Linked DNA regions of Homo sapiens. The protein of the gene in region 1 purifies or fractionates together with the protein of each later gene. This does not show direct contact. Each region holds a gene or a part of one and is shown in the gene's direction. Other genes may lie near its edges.

What was found.
Region 2: the proteins of BRPF3 (region 1) and TRIM56 purify together in Homo sapiens (affinity purification with mass spectrometry, with the first as the bait; one large-scale study listed by BioGRID). This does not show direct contact.
Region 3: the proteins of BRPF3 (region 1) and ARID4B purify together in Homo sapiens (affinity purification with mass spectrometry, with the first as the bait; one large-scale study listed by BioGRID). This does not show direct contact.
Region 4: the proteins of BRPF3 (region 1) and PPFIA3 purify together in Homo sapiens (affinity purification with mass spectrometry, with the first as the bait; one large-scale study listed by BioGRID). This does not show direct contact.
Region 5: the proteins of BRPF3 (region 1) and PHF8 purify together in Homo sapiens (affinity purification with mass spectrometry, with the first as the bait; one large-scale study listed by BioGRID). This does not show direct contact.
Region 6: the proteins of BRPF3 (region 1) and ZFP91 purify together in Homo sapiens (affinity purification with mass spectrometry, with the first as the bait; one large-scale study listed by BioGRID). This does not show direct contact.
Region 7: the proteins of BRPF3 (region 1) and WRAP73 purify together in Homo sapiens (affinity purification with mass spectrometry, with the first as the bait; one large-scale study listed by BioGRID). This does not show direct contact.

Annotation. Positions count from the first base shown.
Region 1 is NC_000006.12:36,210,244-36,213,743, forward strand, and holds part of BRPF3 (bromodomain and PHD finger-containing protein 3), read left to right. Parts: coding exon 1-285; intron 286-1,014; coding exon 1,015-1,317; intron 1,318-3,500. UniProt on the Homo sapiens protein: Scaffold subunit of various histone acetyltransferase (HAT) complexes, such as the MOZ/MORF and HBO1 complexes, which have a histone H3 acetyltransferase activity.
Region 2 is NC_000007.14:101,091,981-101,095,480, forward strand, and holds part of TRIM56 (E3 ubiquitin-protein ligase TRIM56), read left to right. Parts: 3' UTR 1-3,500.
Region 3 is NC_000001.11:235,318,180-235,321,679, reverse strand, and holds part of ARID4B (AT-rich interactive domain-containing protein 4B), read left to right. Parts: intron 1-3,500. UniProt on the Homo sapiens protein: Acts as a transcriptional repressor. May function in the assembly and/or enzymatic activity of the Sin3A corepressor complex or in mediating interactions between the complex and other regulatory complexes.
Region 4 is NC_000019.10:49,118,205-49,122,343, forward strand, and holds the start of PPFIA3 (liprin-alpha-3), read left to right. Parts: upstream 1-1,339; 5' UTR 1,340-1,518; intron 1,519-4,139. Other genes in the region: LIN7B (protein lin-7 homolog B), read left to right, coding at 148-169; putative uncharacterized protein C19orf73, read right to left, coding at 429-818. UniProt on the Homo sapiens protein: May regulate the disassembly of focal adhesions. May localize receptor-like tyrosine phosphatases type 2A at specific sites on the plasma membrane, possibly regulating their interaction with the extracellular environment and their association with substrates.
Region 5 is NC_000023.11:53,936,474-53,939,973, reverse strand, and holds the end of PHF8 (histone lysine demethylase PHF8), read left to right. Parts: intron 1-727; coding exon 728-816; 3' UTR 817-1,914; coding exon of another isoform or gene 1,915-1,993; 3' UTR 1,994-3,294; downstream 3,295-3,500. UniProt on the Homo sapiens protein: Histone lysine demethylase with selectivity for the di- and monomethyl states that plays a key role cell cycle progression, rDNA transcription and brain development.
Region 6 is NC_000011.10:58,606,563-58,610,062, forward strand, and holds part of ZFP91 (E3 ubiquitin-protein ligase ZFP91), read left to right. Parts: intron 1-3,267; coding exon 3,268-3,477; intron 3,478-3,500. UniProt on the Homo sapiens protein: Atypical E3 ubiquitin-protein ligase that mediates 'Lys-63'-linked ubiquitination of MAP3K14/NIK, leading to stabilize and activate MAP3K14/NIK. It thereby acts as an activator of the non-canonical NF-kappa-B2/NFKB2 pathway.
Region 7 is NC_000001.11:3,643,604-3,647,103, reverse strand, and holds part of WRAP73 (WD repeat-containing protein WRAP73), read left to right. Parts: intron 1-321; coding exon 322-438; intron 439-3,500.

The DNA of each region.
Region 1 (3,500 bases):
AGCCAATGGATTTTTCTACTATGAGGCGGAAGCTGGAGTCCCACCTGTACCGCACCTTGGAGGAGTTTGAGGAGGACTTTAACCTTATAGTTACCAACTGCATGAAGTATAATGCTAAAGACACAATTTTCCACCGAGCAGCTGTCCGCCTGCGGGACCTGGGAGGGGCCATCCTACGGCACGCCCGGCGGCAGGCAGAGAACATCGGCTATGACCCCGAGAGGGGCACTCACCTGCCCGAGTCACCCAAATTGGAAGACTTTTACCGCTTCTCCTGGGAAGACGGTGAGAGGCCTGGATGGGTGGGGAGGAGAGGGGCCAGGAGGAGGCACAGGAACAGAGTCTACAGAGTGAGGGATCAGGGTGGTCCTTGGGGCTATAGGTAGACTCCAGGAGCAAAGCTGAGGGTGAGCACAGACTGAGGTATACCTTTGTGGCTAGAATAGTTCTAAGGGTTAAAGTTTAACTAATGTACTCTGCACTTCTTAAGTGGTAGAAAAGGGGAATCAGGTACTAGTGGTCTGTTTGAAAAGCTTAAAGCCTCATCAGAGGTCTTCCTCTCTTGGATCCCCTCTGTATGGCATTGGAGCATGGGACAGGGAGAGTGCATTGCTGGTGTGTGTTTGGCTCATTCAGAAGATTGCAGGTGGAGGACCAGAAAAATGGAATTGCCTCTGAGCCCCACACGCTGCCTGTCCCTGCTCTCTGCTTCTCGATGGCAGCAGCCAGTCACTCAGGCCAGGGTATTGCCAAGCTGCCTCATGCCTGCTCCATGGAGCCCATAATCGTGACTGTGAACTGCTTCCTGCAGACGTTTCCCAGATTCTGACCTTGCCCCTGTGGCTGCCTTCTGGGCAGTGGTGTTGCAGGGCCAAGGCCCACAGTGACGCTGCTGGAAGCTGCTGGCCCAGGCATTCCAAGAGAGAGTTTTGCATCCGAAGGATTCGGCCCCTTTCTCTTGCCCTGTGCTGGGCAGGTCCTTCAGCCCCTTCTGTCCTCCCTTCTCCCTGGCAGTGGACAACATCCTCATCCCAGAGAACCGGGCCCATTTGTCCCCAGAGGTGCAGCTGAAGGAGCTGCTGGAGAAACTGGACCTGGTGAGCGCCATGCGGTCCAGTGGGGCCCGCACCCGTCGTGTCCGCCTGCTACGCCGGGAGATCAATGCCCTTCGGCAGAAGCTGGCACAGCCACCACCACCACAGCCACCATCACTCAACAAGACAGTATCCAATGGGGAGCTGCCAGCAGGGCCCCAGGGGGATGCAGCTGTGCTGGAGCAGGCCTTGCAGGAGGAGCCAGAAGACGATGGGGACAGAGGTGAGAGATAGTCACAGGCAGGCAGGGGGTTGGAGGGTAAAGAGGGACAAAGGCTAAGCTGAAATATCATAATGGGGGTATTCTTTCTGAGTTTAGATCTGACACTTGTGGGCAAGCAAAAGTGCTTGGAAGGGCCACACTTCCATGTATACGCAGGGATGATGTTCAAAATATTTAACAATCACTAGAGACTAAAATTTATCCATCTCAGTAGATGTTGGCTGTTATATTGGAGTGGGCTCCCAAAGGCCCCTGTTGTGGATATTTAGTTGCTGGATTGTGGGGAGTTTCAGGTGCTGCAGCCCAGCAGCTGTTTATTAGCCAATTAAGTATGTCAGTATTTTGCACCTGATACAGCCGTATTGTACATACCAGTTAAATATCAGCCTACCTTGTAACATCACGTGGAGAGACTCTAGAGCAGGTTAGGTTGGGGTGTGAGGTGATAGCAGAGAAGGAAAGACCCTGGGCTTTTGAGCCACCTCATGGTTTTTACCCCATCTGGCTGAATCTACAGGCCCATCTCAAGTAGAGAGGCCAGACTATAAAAGATAGTTGGTTTCCACAGTTTTTCTTGATCTTGAGAAAAGACAAAAAAATAAAAATAAAAAAGAAGAAAAGACAGCCAGGGAAGTGACTCTCAGAAACCCAGGAACCTTATAAGCTAAGCTGCTTCTCATTCTTCTCCTTCACTGGGGATGGAATTGTCTCCCTCATACCTGCCTTCGGATCCGAGCCTATAGCTTGGGAGGGCCTGTCACGCACACAGTCGAAAAGGCTGGAAGTTACTTCCAATGGATAGGGGCCCAAATTGTAGGTAACAGCCCATTTTATTTTAGGTTGGCAGAGAATGGAGACATAGTTGAGAGATCACATTTGACATCAGAGGGCTTTTATGTCCATTGTGACTCCTCTGGACTCCCCGTATGACAGTCAGCATGCCATTTGTATCCCTACTTCTGGGGCTGTGGCAGTACAGAGTTGTGCCCAGTAGGCCAACAGCATCACCTAGAAAAAAAAAAAAAAAAAAAAAAGGTGTAGCCTCACCTCCCATAGATTCAGTTAGGGATGTCTGGGCTTTGGCTTGGAAGTCTCAATTTTTAAAAGTTTCGGCCGGGCGCGGTGGCTCACGCCTGTAATCCCAGCACTTTGGGAGGCCGAGGCGGGTGGATCATGAGGTCAGGAGATCGAGACCATCCTGGCTAACAAGGTGAAACCCCGTCTCTACTAAAAATACAAAAAATTAGCCGGGCGCGGTGGCGGGCGCCTGTAGTCCCAGCTACTGGGGAGGCTGAGGCAGGAGAATGGCGTGAACCCGGGAAGCGGAGCTTGCAGTGAGCCGAGATTGCGCCACTGTAGTCCGCAGTCCGGCCTGGGCGACAGAGCGAGACTCCGTCTCAAAAAAAAAAAAAAAGTTTCAAGGTGGTAGGTGAGCACACATGTTTGGCAACCACTGATTTAACTTACTTGGTCTCGTTTTTCACATTTGTGAACTTTTTCTGCCTGCTGTACTTGTTCTTACTTGGGTGATGTGAAATAAAATCGATTGACAGATGAGAAAACTCTTGAGTCCAGTGAGAATTGTAGATACCTAATCTGTCAAGCTGAGACTTAACCTATTTATTGATTAAGCATGTGGCTTTCTTTGTGTAGAGCAATGGTTTGCAATCCTCACTTCATTAGACTCACTTGGTAAGCTTTAAAAAACAAAATACCCTATCTTTACAAATTTGGTTTCAGTTGGTATGGGATGGAGCCTAGGCATTGGAATTTTTAAGAAACTTCCTATGTGATTCTTATACATAGCCAGGGTTGAGAACTACTAGTGTAGATAAAACTTACTTCTCCTGGGGATGGGTACAGTGGCTCATCCCTGTAATCTCAGCACTTTGGGAGGCAGAGGCAGGGGGATTGTTTGAGGCCAGGAGTTTGAGACCAGCCTGGGCAACACAGTAAGACCCTGTCTCTACAAAAATTTTTTTGAAAAATTAGCCTAGCCAAGTGTGGTGGTGTGTGCTTATAGACCTAGCTACTTTGGAGGCTGAGGCAGGATAATCACTTGAGCCCAGGAGTTTGTGGTTGCAGTGAGCTGTGATCAGACCACTGCACTCCAGCCTGGTCAACAGAGCAAGATCCTGTCTCTGAAAAAAAAAAAAAACCTAATCCTCCTTTCTCTTTGCTTC
Region 2 (3,500 bases), on another chromosome or scaffold:
GGTTTCACTGTGTTGGCCGGGCTGGTCTCCAGCTCCTAACCGCGAGTGATCCGCCAGCCTCGGCCTCCGGAGGTGCCGGGATTGCAGACGGAGTCTCGTTCACTCGGTGCTCAATGTTGCCCAGGCTGGAGTGCAGTGTCGTGATCTCGGCTAGCTACAACCTCCACCTCCCAGCCGCCCGCCTTGGCCTCCCAAAGTGCCGAGATTACAGCCTCTGCCCGGCCGCCACCCCCTCTGGGAAGTGCGGAGTGTCTCTGCCTGGCCGCCCATTGTCTGGGATGTGAGGAGCCCCTCTGCCCGGCTGCCCAGTCTGGGAAGTGAGGAGCGCCTCTTCCTGGCCGCCATCCCATCTAGGAAGTGAGGAGTGTCTCTGCCCGGCTGCCCATCATCTGAGATGTGGGGAGCACCTCAGCCCCGCCGCCCCGTCTGGGATGTGAGGAGCGCCTCTGCCCGGCCGCGACCCAGTCTGGGAGGTGAGGAGCGTCTCTGCCCAGCCGCCCCGTCTGAGAAGTGAGGAGCCCCTCCGCCTGGCAGCCGCCCCGTCTGAGAAGTGAGGAGCCCCTCCGCCCGGCAGCCGCCCCGTCCGGGAGGGAGGTGGGGGGTCAGCCCCCTCCCGGCCAGCCGCGCCGTCCGGGAGGGAGGTGGGGGGTCAGCCCCCGCCCGGCCAGCCGCGCCTTCCGGGAGGGAGGTGGGGGATCAGTCCCCGCCCGGCCAGCCGCCCCGCCCGGGAGCGAGGTGGGGGGCGCCTCCGCCCGGCCGCTGTCCCGTCCGGGAGGTGGGGGGTCGCCTCTGCCCGGCCGCCCCGTCTGGGAGGTGAGGAGCCCCTCTGCCCGGCCACCACCCCGTCTGGGAGGTGTACCCAACAGCTCATTGAGAACGGGCCATGATGACGATGGCGGTTTTGTGGAATAGAAAAGGGGGAAAGGTGGGGAAAAGATAGAGAAATCAGATTGTTGCCGTGTCTGTGTAGAAAGAAGTAGACATGGGAGACTTCATTTTGTTCTGTACTAAGAAAAATTCTTCTGCCTTGGGATGCTGTTAATCTAAGACCTTACCCCCAACCCCGTGCTCTCTGAAATATGTGCTGTGTCCACTCAGGGTTAAATGGATTAAGGGCGGTGCAAGATGTGCTTTGTTAAACAGATGCTTGAAGGCAGCATGCTCCTTAAGAGTCATCACCACTCCCTAATCTCAAGTACCCAGGGACACAAACACTGCGGAAGGCCGCAGGGTCGTCTGCCTAGGAAAACCAGAGACCTTTGTTCACTTGTTTATCTGCTGACCTTCCCTCCACTATTGTCCTATGACCCTGCCAAATCCCCCTCTGCGAGAAACACCCAAGAATGATCAATAAAAAATTAAAAAAAAAAAAAAAAAAAGAAAACCAAGAAGATGGGAAAACCATGCAGAATTGATTTGACGAGGAAAGCCTTGGTCTCTAATACATGCAATGACTAGAACAGTATTTGGTCAAAGAACCACATAAGCTCTGTACCCTGGAGGAAATGTATGCAGGCAAGGACTAGTAAAATAAAAAATAATAATAATTAAAAAAAAAAAAAAGAAAGGCTGGACGCGGTGGCTCACACCTGTAATCCCAGCACTTTGGGAGGCTGAGGTGGGTGGATCACCTGAGGTCAGGAGTTTGAGACCAGCCTGGCCACTACGGTGAAACCCCATCTCTACTAAAAATACAAAAATTACCCGGGTGTGGTGGCGCATGCCTGTAATCCCAGCTACTGGGGAGTCTGAGGCAGGAGACTCGCTTGAACCTGGGAGGCAGAGGGTGCAGCGAGCCGAGTTCACCCCATTGCACTCCAGCCTGGGTGTCACAGTGAGACTCTGTCTCAAAAAAATAATAAATAAATAATTAAATCCACTTGCAGTGGTCAAAAATAAATGTTAAATAAATGGGTGAGAAATCTTGCGGAGAAATAGACTCCTGGCACTATAAAAATGATCCTGGAGAATAATTTGGCTAGACTTTGCAAGAATGACAAAAATGATTATAAGAATCAGTTGTCTCACTTTGGGGAATACATTCTGGGAAAATAATGTAAGAGAAAAAATATTTGCATACAGACATTTGAGGCTGCTCTGTATATTACAGGCAAGAACTGGAAACTGTTCGGCTGCAGGGTGACAGCTAACTAGATTGTGGTTTATTAGGGGAATGAGCCTTTCTTTGTGTATGACAACTATGAAAACTATTGAGAAGAAATAGTTACGTGATACAGTCATAATCCTCAAAAACGGAGAATCAGGAATTATGATCAAATAGTGATAGTAACAAGGAAAACATCTGTCTAAATAATTACTGAGTAGAAATAGGTTCGGAATTTGTAAATAGTCATTAATTTGGGAGATTGGGGTTTTTTTTGTTTTGTTTTTTGTTTGTTTTTCATTATTTTGTGCTATTATTCATACGTGTACATTTCTACTTCAGTTTTTATTATCCATTACATAACATACATGCTTGATTATTTGCTTCAAGGAAATACACCTTTATAAGTAATACTCAATAACTACTGGGTTTGAGAATGAAGGTGTCAGAACGAATGAGATTGTCCTATGAAAGAAGAGGCAGGAGCCAGGGAGGAGGATCCCACCCGGCCGGGGCTCAGCCAGGAGGCAGGGCCATTGGGGCAGGGTGGCAGTCCAAGGAACCGCTCTGGGAAGGTTTGCAAAGGTCGGGGTCCCCCCTGCCAGGTGATCGAATTATCGTGGAGTGTCTGGAAGGCGGGGGAAGTTTTGTTGAGTTCACCAAATAACTCAGACCAACTGGAAACCAAGTGGAGTTTCTACAGGACCAACTAGAATAGGGATCAGCTACATGGGGGCGGGGGGAGGGGGGCAGGGAACGGTGTCTGTCTTCATTGCAGCTCTGTCTGCAGAGCCAGCACTGTGATACCTCATAGTAGGTGCTCAGTGAATGTCTGTGAAGTGAATTACTATCTAGACAAGGATGAGACTGGTATGACTCTCCAAAGCTTTCCCACCTCCAAAACCTCGGCTTGTGGGGAATCTCCAGTAGGGGGCACTGTGGACACGGTTCGCATCTGCCTCCCAAGGCTGGGCTCCGCGTCAAAAAAAAAAAAAAAAAATGAGACTGAGCCAGGTGCAGTGGTCACTCCTGTTATCTCAGCACTTTGCGTGGCCAAGGCGGGAGGATGTCTTGAGGCCAGGAGTTCAAGACTAGGCTGGGCAACATAGCAAGACCCCATCTCTACAAAAAAATTTTTAAATTAGCCAGAGGTGGTGGCATGCACCCGTAGTCCCAGCTGCTCGGGAGGCTGAGGCAGAAGATTGCTCGAGCCCAGGAGTTCAAGGCTGCAGTGAGCTCTGATTGTGCCACTGCACTCCAGCCTGAGTGACAGAGCAAAACCTGGTTTCCTAAGGGGGGGATAAAAGAGGGAGAGATGAGATCGGGGTGTCCCGCTTCTGTGCATGTGGAGGGGGTAACTGGGAACCGTGTACTGTAGGGGATCGCACACCTTGGG
Region 3 (3,500 bases), on another chromosome or scaffold:
AAAAAATACAAAAAATAGAAATTAGCCAGGCTTGGTAGCGGGCGCCTGTAGGACGCTGAGGCAGGAGAATGGTGCGAACCTGGGAGGCGGAGCTTGCAGTGAGCCGAGATCACGCCACTGCACTCCAGCCTGGGCGACAGAGCAAGAGTCTGTCTTAAAAGAAGTAGAATTCAGGACCTAGTAACTCATCCTGGGGTAGGAAGAAGATGGAGGTTTTTTTCTTAGGAAATTAGATAGATGTTACTGTCATTTGAAGCATGCTGTCATTGGACCTGCTAGTTAAGATGTAAGAGTAAGTAGGTAGGATGAAGTCAGAGGCTTGGTTAATCTGGTGTGAATGTTAACCTCATATCTATGATATTTGAAGGGATTTAAGATCCATAACATGGCAAATTTTGTGCTATAAATTTGTGGTCCTTTAGATGAATAGGTAATCTTGTAAAATACTAACATGTTTTCTGTCCAAATTGCTAAATCTTTGTTTATTGTAATTAAAAAAAATACTAGGTGAGTACCTATGTCACTGAAGAATGTTTTTGCCAAGTCAGCCAGTGAATTCAGTCATTGAACACATTGTGTACTTTCCTTGTACCGGACATTGTTCTGGGTTTTGAGGATGCAGCAGTGAATAGAACAAGAGTTCTTACCCTCGTGGAGTTTACTTTCTACTATGGTGGACACACGTTAAGAAAAAAAATAATGCTAAGTGCTTTGAAGAGAAATGATACGGAATCAGAATAAGAGGTTAGAGTGACAGAGGGTGGGTTACTTTAGATTAGGTGATAATGGAGGGCCTTTTCGAGATGACATTTAAGTGTGCTGTGAAACAAGTGATAGAGTGAGCCATTCAGGTTTCTGGGGGAGGAGCATTCCCTGCAGAAAACAAGTGCAAATACCCTGAGATGGAGTGTGCTTGGCATGTTTGAGTGTGATACATTTAAGGAACATTAAGGCCATCAGGGCTGGAGTGGTAGGAGAGGAGGTCAGAGAGGGTCACAAAGGGCCAGTACAATTGTAGGGCCTTATAGGACATGGTAAGGACTTGAGTAAAATCTGAATGTGTTAGGAACCCTTTGAAGGGTGTTGAGTGAAGTGATGTGATAAACATTTTCAAAAATGTTTGACTGCTGGGTAGTGAACACATCATGGGTTCGAACAGATCATGGGAACACAAGAGTGGAAGTAGGGAGATCAGTCAGAAGGCTGTCAAGCTAGTCCTGGGGAGAGATGGTGGTGAGGAGAAATAGTAGTATTGGGAATATATTTGAAGATGGGGATGATTGGATTTCAATGGATTGGGTGTGAAGGGAAAATTCTACTTACTGCAACTTGCACATGTATGTCCTCCCACAAGTGCCCTCCCTCCTTTTCTTTTGAGACGGAGCCTCTCTCTGTTGCCTAGGCTGGAGTGCAGTGATGTGATCTCGGCTCACTGCAGCCTCTGTCTCCCGAGTTTAAGTAATTCTCTTGCCCCAGACTCCCCTGTAGCTGGGATTACAGGCACCTGCCACCACGCCTGGCTAATTTTTTTTGTATTTTTTGTTTTTTTTTTTTTAGACGGAGTTTCGCTCGTTACCCAGGTTGGAGTGCAATGGCACGATCTCGGCTCACTGCAACCTCTGCCTCCCAGGTTCAAGCGATTCTCCTGCCTCAGCCTCCCAAGTAGCTGGGACTACAGGCATGTGCCACCATGTCTGGCTAATTTTTGTATTTTTAGTAGAGACGGGGTTTCACCATGTTGGCCAGGCTGGTCTCAAACTCCTGACCTTGTTATCCACCTGCCTCGGCCTCCCAGAGTGCTGGGATTACAGGTGTGAGTCACCTCGCCCGGCCTTTTTTTTTGTGTTTTTAGTAGCAATGGGGTTTCACCATGTTGGCCAGGATGGTTCTGAACTCCTGACCTTAAGTGATCCGCCCGCCTTGGCCTCCCAAAGTGTGAGCCACTGCACCTGGCCGTCCTCCCTTTTTTTAAAAAAGTCTTTTTGCTGTGATTAGTTGGTAGATGGGATTCTTGGAACTGAGTATGACCATGAAGGCATTGTCAAATCTTAGCCTTCTCAGTGAGCAGTGAACATTGAGTTGAGCAATCCTTTCACTTGTTTTTTTAATTAAAAAAAATGAGATATAATTCACATACCATAAAATTCACCCTTTTATTTTATTTTTTTTGAGACATGGCCACAGTCTGTTGCCCAGGCAGGAGTGTAGTGGCGCAATCACAGCTCACTGCAGCCTTGATCTTCAGTGGGCTCATGTGATCCTGCTTCAACCTCCCAGGTAGCTGGGACCAGAGGTGCACGGCACCATGCCCAGCTAACTTTTAAATTTTCTGTGGAGGTCTCACTGTGTTGCCCAGGCTGGTCTTGAACTCCTGGGCTCAAATGATCCTCCCATCTTGGCCTACCAAAGTGTTGGGATTACAGGCATGAGCCACCGCGCCTCACCAAATTCACCTTTTTAAAGTGTTCATAAATTTCTAGTATTTTCACAAGTTTGTGCATCCATCACTACTATCTTTTGAAAACTTTTTTGTTAATTTCTTTTGTTTGTTTTTTTAGAGATGAGGTCTTGCTGTGTTACCTAGGCTGGCCTTGAACTCTTGTGGTCAAGTGATCTTTCCCCCTCAACTTCCTGAGTAGCTGAGACTTCAGGCACGTTACTTATCCCTAGCTATCTGTCACTGCTATTTAACTCCAGAACATTTCCAAATTCCCAACAAGAAACTTCTTATCCATTAGCAGTCATTCACTGTTCTCCCTTTCTTTTATCCCTCCAGTAACTAATCTAAATTTTTTTTTTGAGAAGAGTTTTGATTCTGTCACCCAGGCTGGAGTGCAGTGGCTCGACCATGGCTCACTGCAGCATCGACCTCCTGGGTTCAAGCGATCTTCCTGCCTCCAGCTCCCAAGTAGATGGGATTACAGGTGTGCGCCACCATGCCCAGCAAATTTTGGAATTTTTTGTAGTAGTGAAGTCTCACTATGTTCCCTAGCCTGGTCTGGAACTCCTGAGCTCAAGTGATCCTCTTGCATTGGCCCCCAAAGTGCTGGGATTACAAGATTCAGACACTGAGCTTAGCATTTACTTTCTGTCTATAAGGATTTGCGTATTCTGGGCATTTTCTGTTAACGGAATCCTGTAATACATATGTGGCCTTTTTGTGTCTGATTTCTTTTACTTCCCATAAGTGAAAGAAGTAGCAAGTGTTGACCAGGCGCGATGGCTCACGCCTGTAATCCCAGCACTTTGGGAAGCCGATGTGGGTGGATCACGATGTCAGGAGTTCAAGACCAGCCTGGCCAAGATGGTGAAACCCCATCTGTACTAAATAAAAAAATTAGCCGGGTGTGGTGGTGGGCGCCTGTAATCCCAGCTACTCAGGAGGCTGAGGCAGAGAATTGCTTGAACCTGGGAGGCAAAGGTTGCAGTGAGCTGCGATGGCGCCACTGCACTCCAGCCTAGGTGTCAGATCAAGACTCCGTCTCAAAAAAAAAAAAAAA
Region 4 (4,139 bases), on another chromosome or scaffold:
TTCCTTCCATCCCAAGATACGGAACCTACTGTGGCTGGGATCCCTCAGCCCACTTACCTGGGCCCTTGCCTCTGCAACCCCAGTCCTGCCCCTCTTGTCTACCCGGAGCCTCCCTGATCCCGGGTCCCTTGTCCACCCCCCTTGCAGGTCCTTGGAGTCTCGAGGTTGAAACCACAGATCTGGACGTTCACGTGCACTCTCTTCCTGTACAGTATTTATTGTTCCTGGCACTTTATTTAAAGATATTTGACCCTCACTGAGTGTCTGTGTGTCTGTCCTGCATCCCTGGGTTGGTGTCTTGAGATGTGGAGGGAATGCGAGGAGCTGAGGTCAGGCCAAGCCGTTGAGAAGCCTTTTCCAGAGTCTGAGAACAGAGGTTAAGACCTCTCCCTAGGTCTGAAGGCGGAGACAGGCCGGCTTCCAAGAGACTAGTCCGAGGGCGGAGGGCGGAGGCAGGGACCCAGTCTGGGTCTGAGTGCTGGGGCAGAACTGAGGACAACGCTGCCTACCCTTAAGAGCGTCTGAGGGCGAAGGCCAAGTCCCTTCCTCCAGAGTCCTGAAACGCAGCCGGAGCCAGTGGGCGGCCTCTGTGTGGGCGGGGCGGAGCGAACCATTAGCCTCGTCCGCCGGGGGAACCCTGCAGGCCGCACTACTGTCTGCGTGGGAGTCGCGGGTGGGGGTGCCGCGTGCAGTTCCCGAGGCGGGCGCAGGGGTGCAGAATGAGGTGCCCTCGCCCACCGGGCGCTCACTCCACCTTCCAAACACAGCGCGTCTTTCCGGAAGCAGCCCCCGCCTTGAAATCCAACCTTTAGCCTCATCCCGCTGCCCGCCCAGCCCTCGTGTCCCGTGCGGCGCGAGGGCTAGTGCGCGCCACTGCCGGGAGCCGGGGTCGCGACTCGCGTTCCACGCCGCGCGCTACTCGCTCCAGGTGACATCATCCCCCTGCCGGGCTCCGCCTCCCGCCCCAGCCGCCTCACGCCGCGTGCCTATTGGTCGACGCGCCTTATGCCCCGCCTCTCGCTCTCCGCCCGCGCGACCCCTCCCGGCCGGTGTGGAGGCGGGGTCTAGTCGCCGGCCGGCGCCGACGCTCTCTCCCATTGGCCGCTCTTCGCCGTCTGTCAGTCTCCTGTTAAAGGGGCCACGACCGCCCGGGAGCCGTGGGGGGGGAGGGGGAGGGAGGAGGAATTTTTTTGGGGGGAAGGTGGGATTTGGGGGGCGCTGGTGGGCACCCCTGGATCTGGCGGCTGCGGCCTCGCGGGGGGAGGCTGATCGGTGACAGGGGCAGGGGGCTATTTTGGGGGTAGAAGGCAGTGAGAGCGTGAGGGGGAGGGGGGTCCCCAGCGCCCAAGCCGGAGCCAGAGACGCGGAGCCCGCGCGAGCGTCGGAGACAGGGCTCCAGGGCTCCGAAGCGACAGAGCCGGGCCCCGGCCGCTGCCAGGGGCCCCGCCCGGCCCCCCCACTCCACCCCACGTCCCTCCTGCAGCCCAGCTCCGCCCGCAGCCGCCGCGGACCAGGCAGGTAAGAGCCCGGCCCGGCCCTCCTGGCAGCGCCCACCCTGGGGACCCCTTGGCGAGCCTCCCCCGCCTCCCCGAGATCCCGGATTCCCTTCCTCATCCCAGGGGACCCCCGAGCCCAGATTTCACACCCCAACCCCGGGGACTCAGGCGTGCCCCTCCCGGCGCCCAGAGTCCCCGACCGAACCCTAGAATCCCGGGCGCACCGCCGCCTCGCGCCTCCTCCAGGGCCCAGGAGCTTGGATTTCCCGGTCCGGCCCCGGGACCCCTCCTAGAGCCTAGATCCCCCTTCCTGACCCTGTCCTGGGAGCTCCAGACACCCGCCGCGGCGGTGCCAGACTCCCCAGACGCGTCCGCATCGTCCCCGCTTCGCGCACTCCGTCTCCCGTCGCCAGCCTCGGGCTTGCACAGCCGGCTGCGTCCCACGGTCCAGGCAGGCTCGGCGGCCGCCCTGGACACAGGCCCGCTCTGGAGCTGTCCATGGTCAGCGCGCTCGGCAGCCTCGCCTCCCCCCACCTCCTGCCGCCGCCACCAGGGAGGGGGCGCAGGCGGCGCGGGGATCCCCCCGCCGCGCCTTTGACCCGGGAATACCCGGGCCCTCCCCGACCAGGGCGCCCCAGCCTCTGGGTTCTGCCGGCCAGGCTCGTGGCCCCGTCCTCGGCACCCCAGGTTCCTGGGACTCCAGCTGCTCCCTGAGGATCCAGGGCTTCTGAATTTTCCTATTCTGGTCGCCGTGGGGACCATGGCACCCGGGGATGCAGCTCCCACCCCGTTCGGGAAGCCTGTCCGTGTCTACACCTCTGCTGGCCCCAGGTGGTAGCCCTCACCCCGTCAGCACCTAGGAATCCTGTTCCCCAGCGTTTGCTCTGCTTAGAACCCCGCTGTGCCCTGCAGACACACAGACTTAGCCTCCTGGCACCCAGCATCTGCTCCCCGAGGGACTCAGGCGCCATGACTCCTTTCCTTTGGGGGACCCGGAATGTGATTCTCAATGCAGTTCTCTGACTTCTGTTCACACTCCCACTTGGGGACCTAAATGTCTTGGTCCCAGTCTCCTATCCCCTCAGGGACCCAGGAGTTCAGACCCCAGCTTCCGTACTGCCCACCAGCTTTTACTGAGGCTGTCTGCCTCAACCCTCTCTCCAAACAAGACCTCAGGCTCTCACCTTCCAATCCCCCATCATTTACCTCCACAAGGATTCAGGAGTCCAGGCTCCCAGCTCTGTCCACTGCCCTCCCCAGCAGGTATCTAGTTTCTCAGGTCTCACTTTTAGGAACCAGGTCTTCACAGCCTCATCACTCTGCCCCATCAACTTCACATCTCCTGTGGCCCTACCAAACCCCTGTCTCATCCTCATGTCACCCCAGGTGGCGGGCTTCAGGACTCTCTACTCTTTCCCCTAAGATGCAGCTTGTTGAGATGTTTCTAGCACTCCATTGCCCCCTGAGGCTCAGATGAGTTCCCCTTCTCCAAGTACACTCTCCCAGGCCAATGAGCCGAACACACATCACCTCCTCCAGATGTATTCTGTGGCCTGGGCTCATAAGGAGATCTAGAAGCTACCTGCTGCCATACAAATTTCTTTCTTTCTATTTATTTATTTATTTATTTTGAGACAAGGTCTCTGTTGCCCAGGCTGGAGTGCACTGGCACAATCACAGCTCACTGCAGCCTCCACCTCCTAGGCTCAGGTCATCTTCCCACCTTAGCCGCCTGAGTAGCTGGGACCACAAGCACTCACCACCAGGCCTGGCTAATTAAAAAAAAATTTTTTTGGCCAGGCGCGGTGGCTCATGCCGGTAATCCCAGCACTTTGGGAGGCTGAAGCGGGCGGATCACCTGAGGTCAGGATTTTGAGACCAGCCTGGCCAACATGGAGAAACCCTGTCTCTACTAAAAATACAAAATTAGCCAGGCGTGGTGGCACATGCCTGTAATCCCAGCTACTCAGGAGGCTGAGGCAGGAGAGTCGTTTGAACCCCGGAGGCGGAGGTTGCATTGAGCTGAGATCGTGCCACTGCACTCCAGCCTGAACGACAAGAGCGAAACTCTGTCTCAAAAAAAAATTTTATTTATTTATTTATTTATTTATTTTTTGTAGAGATGGGGGTTTCGCCATGTTGCCCAGACTGGTCTGAAACTCCTAGGCTCAAGGGATCCTTCTCTGTTGGCTCCCAAAAGTGCTGGGATTACAGGCATGGCCATCGCGCCTGGCCGGGCCACATTTCTTGTCGCACATGTGCTCTTGCATTGCTCCATGTTCTAGATTCCTTCTAAACACCAGAACACTCCCAGCTGATGTCTGTTCTGTGTTCCATTTTCATTCCAGGCATGGTCTGAGTTCTAGGCCAGATGCCAATTTTTTTTTTTTTTTTTTTGAGACGGAGTTTCACTCTTGTTGCTCAGGCTGGAGTGCAATGCTGCGATCTTGGCTCACCACAACCTCTGCCTCCCGCGTTCAAGCGATTCTCCTGCCTCAGCCTCCTGAGTAGCTGGGATTACAGGCGCCTACCACCATGCCCGGCTAATTTTTTGTATTTTTAGTAGAGATGGGGGTTTCTCCATGTTGGTCAGACTAGTCTCGAGTTCCCGACCTCAGGTGATCACCTGCCTCGGCCTCCCAA
Region 5 (3,500 bases), on another chromosome or scaffold:
GCCAGAAGGAGGTAGAGGGTGGGCTAGAGATGGGAACTCTAGGGAGGAGGCACATATACAAGTTCAGGCAGGCAGGAAGAGTACCTGGGGCTCTGCCAGAGGGAATGGAGAGGAAGGAGATGAACTGATCAAATATGGAGGCAGTCAAATAGGACATGGGAGGGGATTTAATGTGGGGAGACAGAGACAACAAAGAGTTAGAGGACTGAAGCCTTCCTTTCCCTCACTTTGGTCCTCAAAGCCCAGTCCCTAGAGTACGCAGCTCAAGGGCATGGAGGTTGGTGTGATGTTGAAGGCTGATGAAGATGAGAGTTTCTAATGAAGCAAGGCCCTAGGGATGGCAACTTCAGGGACACTGAGCTCTAATCACTAACCAGGCACTTGTCCAGTCCTGGTGGGTAGGATAAGAGGGTATGGAAGTACATTTACCTCCCTGCAGGATCTTGGAAGGAAAATGATTGGGACCAGAGTAATCAGTGGAGAAAAAGAACTAGACAAACTGTAATCAGGGAGTCTTGCTGCTACAGGAGGTCATAGGAGGAAGAGTCAAAGCATGTGGTGTTGGTTGGAAGTAGTTAAGGAGGGCTTCCTGCCCAATATGGTCTAAGGATGGAGAAACTTTGTGGGTAGAGAAACAGGAAGGGGAGGTGGCCTGAGGGCAGTTGGTGCCAGATTTGATGTTGAAGCCCTTGCCAAAGCCCTTGCTTACTTTTCCCTTCCCCCACAGGAAAGCGTCCCAAAAAGGGCCTGGCCACAGCAAAGCAGAGACTCGGCCGTATCCTGAAAATCCACAGAAATGGCAAACTACTTCTGTGAGCCCTCCTGTGTCCCACCCCTCACCCCTTTACCCCCATTGCCTTCTCCATTGTCAACTCTTGGGGCACTCCTGGATCCTATCTGCCCTGGACAAGGTGCTGAGGTGCATTGTCCTGCTTTCTTGGGACTTACCAAAGGCACGGACCCCTCCACCGACTCCTTCTAGTTCCCTTCCCCACTTTCACTAGAGCATCCTGCCTGCCTTCTCCACTGAGGAGCAGGTAAATGGGAGAGGTTTCCAGCTGACTAGAACCCTCTTTTCTACTCGTCCAAACCACTCCCGTCACCTGCCTTGTCTGTTCTTTATTCTTCATCCCCCGCTAGAGCTGGAAGGCAGGATGAGGAGAGGTATGAAGGAGCCTGAGCCATGAAGTGGGAAGCCCAGTGCTTGACACTTTCTGCAACTCTAGCCCTATATCCAGAAGCCTGCCCACCTCCACCCATTCTGTTTGCCCCATTTCCCCAGTCCAGTGGACATGCCCCACCTCCAGACTTGCTCATGGGAGAAGGCTGTGGTCTCTGCCCCCTCTTGCCAAATGCTTCATGGAAATGAAGAGGAAGGCCTAGAGCCTCCTTCCTGCCCCACTGTGGGCCATTTCCAGAAGTGGCCTAGAAATGCCAACTTCACTTACCTTTCAAAAGAAAGGTGATTCCTATCACTTGTCAAGGTAGGGAGAGGTCAGATGCCCAAGCCTTTGACCACGGTTTTGTAGCCTGTTGGAGGAAGCTACTTTTAGCTGGCTACACATGAGGCCACTTGTTTTAGGGTGAGCTCCAGGGATTTGCCTGGATTTTGAAATCATGTAGAACATTATCCACGTGGCTGTGGCTGTGGCTGTGGCTGGGCCCTGGCAGGTGGAAAACCATCTCCCAGAAACCTGAAAGCACCTGCCAATGACGCAGATAACCCTGGCCCTACAGCCTGCTTGCTCCGCCTATACCACAGAGCACAGCCTGGACATTATGGAGGGTGTGGCGGGACGGCCCACACCTGGGTCCTCCATCGGGAACTTTTCATGCTTCTTTCTCCACCTGAGGTCTTGGTCTGAAGAAGACCTCAGGACTCACATCTTCACTCCTGGGCCTTTGCACTTCCAGACGACAGGTCATCGTTCAAGCAGAATGCAGACAGGCCATTCACGAGCCCAAGTTGAAGAGAAGAGACGCCCATCCGTGAAGGAGCAGACCATCCATCCGATCCTCCCCTTCCCCTGTCCTTCCTTCGTGGATTGTCTCCATTGTCCAGACAGTGCCCCCACCTCCCACCGCCTTGCCTCACTGGCAATCTGGACTCGATGGAGAACATCCCCCCACCTCCATTTGGCACTACCCAAGTGGAGTGTACCCTTGCCCTTTCCACCTGTACCACCCACTCCAACCTCACCCCAGCTTGCCCAATGCTTCTGGGGAATTTAATAGCTACCATGCAGGCCACAGGGAATTTGTGAGGCTTCTTTTGTCATCTTTGTATCTCCAGTTTGTCTTTCTTTTCTCCATAGCCCTGCCTCTACTTTCCTTCCTTGGAATCAGGGGTTCCTTTAGCCCATTTGCTTTCTCTACCTTGGGGACCCCAGGGGCCAAGCAGTTCTCCATCTAGTCACACCAAAGGCAAAAAGCCTGGCTACCTCCCCCCTAGCACGTGAGTCCCTACTCCCCTCCCCTCTGTTTCTGCCCAGCTTTGCTTATTTTGGGGATTTCAAGGCAGCAGAGGGTAGTGAGGGGAGAGCAGGAGAAGCCTCTGTCCTGTATAGGCAACTGCCTGACTATGCGGTGACTGCTGTAACCAAGATCAGGTCCCCAGCCCTTTTGTCCATTAACACCCCTTCTTGATCTTTCAAAGGCAGCTAATTGCTAGCAAATCCCCCCGATTCCGGCCTTTTCCCTCTATTTCTTTGTTAGAAGTTTTCTGTGGAGCTGAAACCCAGCCTCTGTTTGACTGGGTTTCATTTAGCTTAGTTGGGTTCTTAGAGCCCCCTGTTTGTTGTTTTGTGTTGTTTCCAATGAAAAGCAAGTTTACCCTCAGAGTTATGCTTTTCCAAAGAGGCTGATGTCTTTGTTTTTGTTTTTTTTAATGTTTCAGGTTCTAAGTGAAGTGAGTTGGGGAGGGGTTGGGAGTGTTAGTAATCAAGGTTTAGAACACCATGAGATAGTTACCCCTGATCTCCAGTCCCTAGCTGGGGGCTGGACAGGGGGAAGGGAGAGAGGATTTCTATTCACCTTTAATATATTTTTACAAAAAAAGCAAACAATTTAAAAACAAGCCCACCGCTTCTGTACATGTCTAAATATATTTTTAGAAGTGGGTAGGATTGTGAATTTCTGATGCAGGGCCTTTTTATAAATAGGTTAGGGTAGCATCATTCAGACTTCTCTGTTGTTTTTGTCCCTGTCTTTTTCTTATGTTGTGTTACTAATGTAATTTATATTTTTTTTAGATCCTCCCTTTCCTATAGAGATAAAAGTGATTTATCTTGGCAATTGCTTTGCTTGGCATTCTTTTTTTTTGTGATGAGGGTGGTGGTGTGGTGCAGGGTCTGGGAGTGCTGCCTTCTCCTTGTACTCTTTGTCTCTCCCTCAGCAAGTTGTCAGGCATTTCCCTGGTGCTCAGCCTTATGCTTGAAGTGGGAAGGGTATTCCCACCCTCAGGAGGGACACGCTTCACACACCTGAAGTAGATCATCAGA
Region 6 (3,500 bases), on another chromosome or scaffold:
TATGATATGAAATTTAGGATACAAATGATCCCATCATGCAGGTACTGAGCATAGTACCCAATAGTTTTTCAACCTCCCCCCAATAATCTCCAGTTTCTGTTGTTGCCATCTTTATGTCCATGAGTACCTAATGTTTAGCTCCTACTTTGGTCTCTGTGGTCTCTAAAGGTTCTGGTCCTTTCGCTTATATTCATCAAGTGATTTGACAGATTTCCTTAAACATCTTTACTCACCTTTTTCTTGATTCAGTGCTCACTTGGCTTTTATAACCTTTAACTATTGTTAAGAGTTTCCACAAAGTTGATTCTGACAGTGTTTGTTCATGATATGTGTTTATTTCTGTGGAGGGACATTTTTGCTGTCATCTCTGACAGAGTGGTTTTTTTTTAAGACTAGATTTTTAGGGGACGGGAGCAGTAGTATTCAATAAGATAGGCTATTATGCCTTATTCATAATGGTAAACTATTGTTATCAAATTGGCATCATTTATCCAGTGAGTAAAATCTACAGTATAGGAGGTTGTGGGCATACCATCCTTTCATCATGAAGAAGAAAGGAGCTTTGTTGAGGACAGGAGGTTATGGAGTGAGTTCAAAGTCCAACTCGGTACAGTTGGGTTAAGGAAAAAAAAGATGTGTCTATTATTAAATGTTGTAATACTTCATAGGTGGTGTTGAATTGTTCTTTTTGATGAAATTGTTTTAAAAGTAGTCATGACCTATATGTAAAAGTCCTTCATTATTAATCTCAAAATATGATTTCTAAATCTAGGTGTCCTTAGCTAACCTTGTGATTTTGAATAAGCTTCTTTTTTGGGCTTCCAGATACTTTATGGGTAAAACGTAATGGATTGTGCTTAGACTGAATGGCCTTTGAGGTATTTTCACCTATATTAATGTTTTATTTTTTATTTTTTCTATTAAAATAGCTCAGATAGGAGGGTGATGCAATAATGAATGGAAAAAGACAGCTGAAAGGAAATGCACAACTGATTTTGATGGTTGTTTAGAACTGTTCGCACTGCTATTTATCTCTGTGTTTCAAACTAATTTCATTACTTCAGTATATTGTCATAAAACTTTCAGTGTAATTAAAGCTAAAATAGCCTATAGTCACCACATTGCTCCATAGTAAACTATTTTTTAATGTTAAGCAAAAATGTTGCCATACTGTATATATAGTTTTGTGTCTTTTTTATACATTTAACAATATTTTTGCTGATAATTCCATGTCATTTTTAACATAAACCTACCTCTATATAGTATTCAATCATACTAAGGTATCATGGTTTATTTAAGCACTTTATCTTTGACAGAGGGTTAGGTTGTTTCTGTTCTTTGCTATTATAAACATAATACAGTTAACCTCCATGTGGTAGTTTATATTTCTAGGGCATATACTTAAAGGTGAAATTACTACACATATTTTTGGACCTACCTTGGAAGTAACCAGTACTTAAGAATTTCTTGTACTTCTTCCAGAAATGTTATTATAGTATGTAAGATATATATATATACACACACACACACATACTGTAATGACTAATGTGTAGCACTGTTTTTAAGTAGTAGAAGAGTAGACAACTAAACATTCAAAGGGGGATTGGTTTCATAAGTTATATATTTGTGTGTATATATATCTTACATATATATCTCTCTCTTACATATGTACACAATTATTTGTGAAACCAATCCCTCTTTGAATGTTGTTTTCTACTCTTCTACTACTTAAAAACAGTGCTATATGTTAATCATTTATAAATATGATTGTAATTTTGTAGGATAAATTTCTAGTAGTTGAACATCATGTGGAAAGGTATATACATTTATAATTTTGATGTATATTGTCAAATTGGTCTGCATGGAGGTTTTGCTAATACATTATCATATGTGTGTTAGAGGACCTGTTTTCCCACAGTCTTGACAATACATTATGTTGTCAAATATGATCATCCCCAATATGATACATGAAAAATGGTGTCATGCTATCGTTTTCATTTGAGTCTCTTGTTCTGAGTGGATTGAGCTTTGAGCTTTTGTTTTTTGTTTTTTCTTTTTTTGGAATGGAGTCTTGCTCTTTCGCCGAGGCTGGAGTGCAGTGGCGCAGTCTCAGCTCACTGCAACCTCCACCTCCCGGGTTCAAGTGATTCTCCTGCCTCAGCCTCCCCAGTAGCTGGGATTGCAGTTAGGCACCACGACGCCTGGCTACCTTTTGTATTTTTGGTAGAGACGGGGTTTCACCACGTTGGCCAGGCTGGTCACAAACGCCTGACCTTTTGATCTGCCCGCCTTGGCCACTCAAAGTGCTGGGATTACAGGTGTGAGCCACTGAGCCCGGCCTGTTAGTTCCTATTTTTCTATTGGGTTATTAGACTTTGTTTATGGTTGATTTTTGCCATGAGGAAAATTGTTTTTATGTGTATCTTATGACCTGAAATTTTGTTTTATTATTGGGCCTTTCCCGTTCTGAGTTTATTAAAGAATCTTCTATTGTTAAAATGGGCTCAATTCTAATGTACTTTTTTTTTATATAGGTCTAAGTATTTAGCTACGCCAGGTATGAAAGCCAGTTTCTGAGATTAACTTTTTATTACTTACTACTCAAGAGAGGATGACCTACCGTACTTCACCCTTAAAACATGACAAAATATAGGATAACAATAACAGATTTGTGTGTGCTCCTGTACACAATGTCTTATAGGACAACTGAAACAGAATAGCACCAGAGCTGGACTTTACCATTCAATTGCTCTATAGATTAGTTCAAATTTATGGTGTGGTTCCAAGAAAAACTCTTGATTAGAGTGAAAAGTACTCCTGTTAGGAATTCCTCTTTAGTAATTTGTTATAGACTTGTTTGGTTGTAAATAACATCTAGATCTATGGTTCTTTCTTTTTGGTGCCTCTGTAGTTCTGGTCATCTTTTTGGGACTAATTAATTTAGTTTCTTTTAACTTAGATCTAAAAGGTAGAATTTCATGAATCCAGTTACTTAAGTGTATTTTGCATAGTTAGCATTGCATTTTTTAGAAGATAAGGCAGTATAAAATTACTACTTTGCAACATGAAGTAATTTCTTTAGCATGATGACATTAAGGATAAGTTTTATCTCATTTTCCTTTTTTTATTATTTCAATTAAAGTCTTCAGTTTTTTTTCCTTTGAAAATATTTAATTTATCTTCAACTGTATTTACAATTAGTAGATATACAGGGATGGTTATTGGTTAACTGTAAACTTAAAGAGAATGGTATGTCTTTTTATTTAGATCCCAAGGAAGAAAAAGAGGAAGAAGACGATTCTGCCCTCCCTCAGGAAGTTTCCATTGCTGCATCTAGACCTAGCCGGGGCTGGCGTAGTAGTAGGACATCTGTTTCTCGCCATCGTGATACAGAGAACACCCGAAGCTCTCGGTCCAAGACCGGTTCATTGCAGCTCATTTGCAAGTCAGAACCAAATACAGACCAACTTGATTATGGTACAGTGCAACTAGAATATGGC
Region 7 (3,500 bases), on another chromosome or scaffold:
AAATGAGGTCTTAGGAATGACAATGTGAATAAACAGTTTTAAAACAACAACGAAATGAAATCACCAAGAAGCGTGGCTTACTTTTACACTGGAATCCAGCACCAGCCCTTCATCATGAAAGGTTCTAAAAGACACCCTGTGTGATCGGGTCTCTGCTGGTTTTAAGGGAGTTGTCTCTCGGCGAGGCCTCGCTATAGACTGCTGATGAGTTTGAAGACACCCTGTGCGGTCGGGTCTCCGCTGCGTTTAAGCGAGCTGTCCTCGCTGTCTCTCGGTGCTGATGAGTTTGCACTTGTGTGTTTCTTTCTTCTCTCAATCCAGGTCTGGTCTTTAGAGCAGCCCGAATGGCACTGCAAAATAGACGAGGGCTCAGCCGGGCTGGTGGCCTCGTGCTGGAGCCCGGACGGGCGCCACATTCTCAACACCACGGAATTCCATGTAAGTGTCAGCCCCAAGACACCTTACTGGCCATGTGATCCTGTCCTCTGCTCTCGAAACAGCTGGGGAGTGCGAGAGGGGGTGTGTTTGGAGTATGCTAGTCTCCCCTTATCCTCAGGGGATGCATTCTAAGACCACCAGGGGATTCAGATTGTACCAAACCCTGTATTTCCTGTGTTTTTTCCTATACAGCATACCTGTGATACATTTAATTTATAAATTAGATACAGTAAGAGATTAGCAACAATCATAGTATAGAACAAGGATAACAATATACTGTTTATAATTGCATGGATAGAAGATTTGGTCTTACTGAAGATCTGAGCAACAACCTCAGCATAGGATTTTTTCTTTCCTTGTTGCGTCAAGAACTTTCAGCTCGTCATTTAAAGGAAGCACTTTGTGGCTTCTCTTTGGCGTATCCAGATTGCGAGCCCCACCGCCCGTGCTTTGGGCTGCTACTGAGTCAGATAAGGGTGTCGTGAACACAGGCACTGTCTGCTGCCCTGGGTCTGATGACTGAGGTGGCTCCCGAGTGGCTGGTAGATTGGCGGGGTTGGAGGGAGCCGGGGAGCGTATATAGTGGTGTGTATATTTTAGGTCAGAGCATTATAAGCCACTAAGTATTATTGTCTGATCTTTTGTCCAGTTTTGAAGAAAAAACATTTTAAAAATCTTAATTTAGATTTTTTAGGATTTCGGCACTCCCTTTAATTCAACGATAGAAAATGCGCTGTGATATGAGCCGGCTCGCACCTTTCCTTCAGGAGCCTGGCCTGGGGGCGTGGCTCGGGGCGGTCGGCAGCCGCCCATTCACCTGCTGTAGGTACCGCACAACAGCCTCCGTGCTGAGCTCAGCGCGGAGGGGAATGTTGACATCCGAGAATAAATCAGAGGGATCTGGGATAGGAGACTGCATTTTAAGTTAAAATTAGGCATATGTCAAGTGTTTAGATACCAGGTCTTTGGTGTCCGCAGTGTCTTTTTAAGATACAGAAAAATGGACGAATTCCTTTAATAATGTGCTTTTCTGATGGAGTTGGATCCCAGTGTTTGGGCCCAAGTCCACTGAGTGCTCATAGCTGTCTGGGCTGCTGGCTGCACCTCGGTAACCCGCCCATCCCGCTGCGCCGCGCACACCACGGGGCAACCCGCCCATCCCGCTGCGCCGCGCACACCACGGGGCAACCCGCCCGTCCCGCTGCACGGCGCACACCACGGGGCAACCCGCCCGTCCCGCTGCGCCGCGCACACCACGGGGCAACCCGCCCGTCCCGCTGCGCCACGCACACCACGGGGCAACCCGCCCATCCCGCTGCGCCGCTCACACCACACTGCAGCCCTCCCGTCCCGCTGCGCCGCGCACACCACGTAGATGATGGCACCTGGGAGGATTTCTCCCAGCGTGTGGCTGCAGATGCTCTGTAGGGTTTCATTCGGCTTTTTTCAAGCTGGCATCGGCTGGGATAAAGTTTTATCCAGCCATGAGGGTTGCTGAATCAACTGCTTCAGATGGCTGGATGGCTTTACATATTTTTCAGTTTCGATTTTAAAAAATACTCCAAATCTAATGTCTGCTATTATGGGCTGTCAGAGAATAAGACAGGAAACAAAGGCCCACCAATGTCTCCGCACTATGTATTGACATTGGAAGGCACTTTCGGCCTGAGTGTTTCAGAGAGGATAATTTGAGCTTTTCACGCAGCCGTGTCTAACAGTCTTCAGGCCTGTAATGCTTTGGGCCCAAATCTGCCCTTGAGAAGGGCTCATGTCATGGGGTCAGCCTTGTTGTATTATCTTATTAAATGGCCCAGAAGGAAAACTACCATCTATAGAGTTTAGAAACCTTAAAAGATGGATAAAAGCCTGGTTTTGTTGAGCATCCCATGTCACACACACCAATATTGAAAACACCTTTGCTACAGAACAAACTGATTTTTCATAGAGTACATTTAGATGACATTGTTCAACCTAAGACTAAGGTCATGACCACTTTGCTGGTGGCCTTAGAGGAAACGTTAAGACCAGGTGGTGGATGAGGACCGGTAACCTCAAGGCATGGGGCATCTTGACCAAGATGTCAAAATGTGTCTCCAGCTTTGCATGCGAACTTTAATGGTTGCAAGTGAGGAAACAAAACCGGAATTCCAGACGTGCTGGCCAGGAAGTGAGCTGCGGGCACCGTCCATCAGTCTCATTCACAAGAGCAAGGACCAGACCCGTTCGAGGATTAGCGGGGCCACTAGGTCCCCTTCTGAAGGCGCGACCCCATGTCCGGGGCTCAGCGGGGCCACTGGATCCCCTTCCGAAGGCGCGACCCCATGTCCGGGGCTCAGCGGGGCCGCTGGGTCCCCTTCCGAAGGCGCGACCCCATGTCCGGGGCTCAGCGGGGCCGCTGGGTCCCCTTCCGAAGGCGCGACCCCATGTCCGGGGCTCAGCGGGGCCGCTGGGTCCCCTTCCGAAGGCGCGACCCCATGTCCGGGGCTCAGCGGGGCCGCTGGGTCCCCTTCCGAAGGCGCGACCCCATGTCCGGGGCTCAGCGGGGCCGCTGGGTCCCCTTCCGAAGGCGCGACCCCATGTCCGGGGCTCAGCGGGGCCGCTGGGTCCCCTTCCGAAGGCGCGACCCCATGTCCGGGGCTCAGCGGGGCCGCTGGGTCCCCTTCCGAAGGCGCGACCCCATGTCCGGGGCTCAGCGGGGCCGCTGGGTCCCCTTCCGAAGGCGCGACCCCATGTCCGGGGCTCAGCGGGGCCGCTGGGTCCCCTTCCGAAGGCGCGACCCCATGTCCGGGGCTCAGCGGGGCCGCTGGGTCCCCTTCCGAAGGCGCGACCCCATGTCCGGGGCTCAGCGGGGCCGCTGGGTCCCCTTCCGAAGGCGCGACCCCATGTCCGGGGCTCAGCGGGGCCGCTGGGTCCCCTTCCGAAGGCGCGACCCCATGTCCGGGGCTCAGCGGGGCCGCTGGGTCCCCTTCCGAAGGCGCGACCCCATGTCCGGGGCTCAGCGGGGCCGCTGGGTCCCCTTCCGAAGGCGCGACCCCATGTCCGGGGCTCAGCGGGGCCGCTGG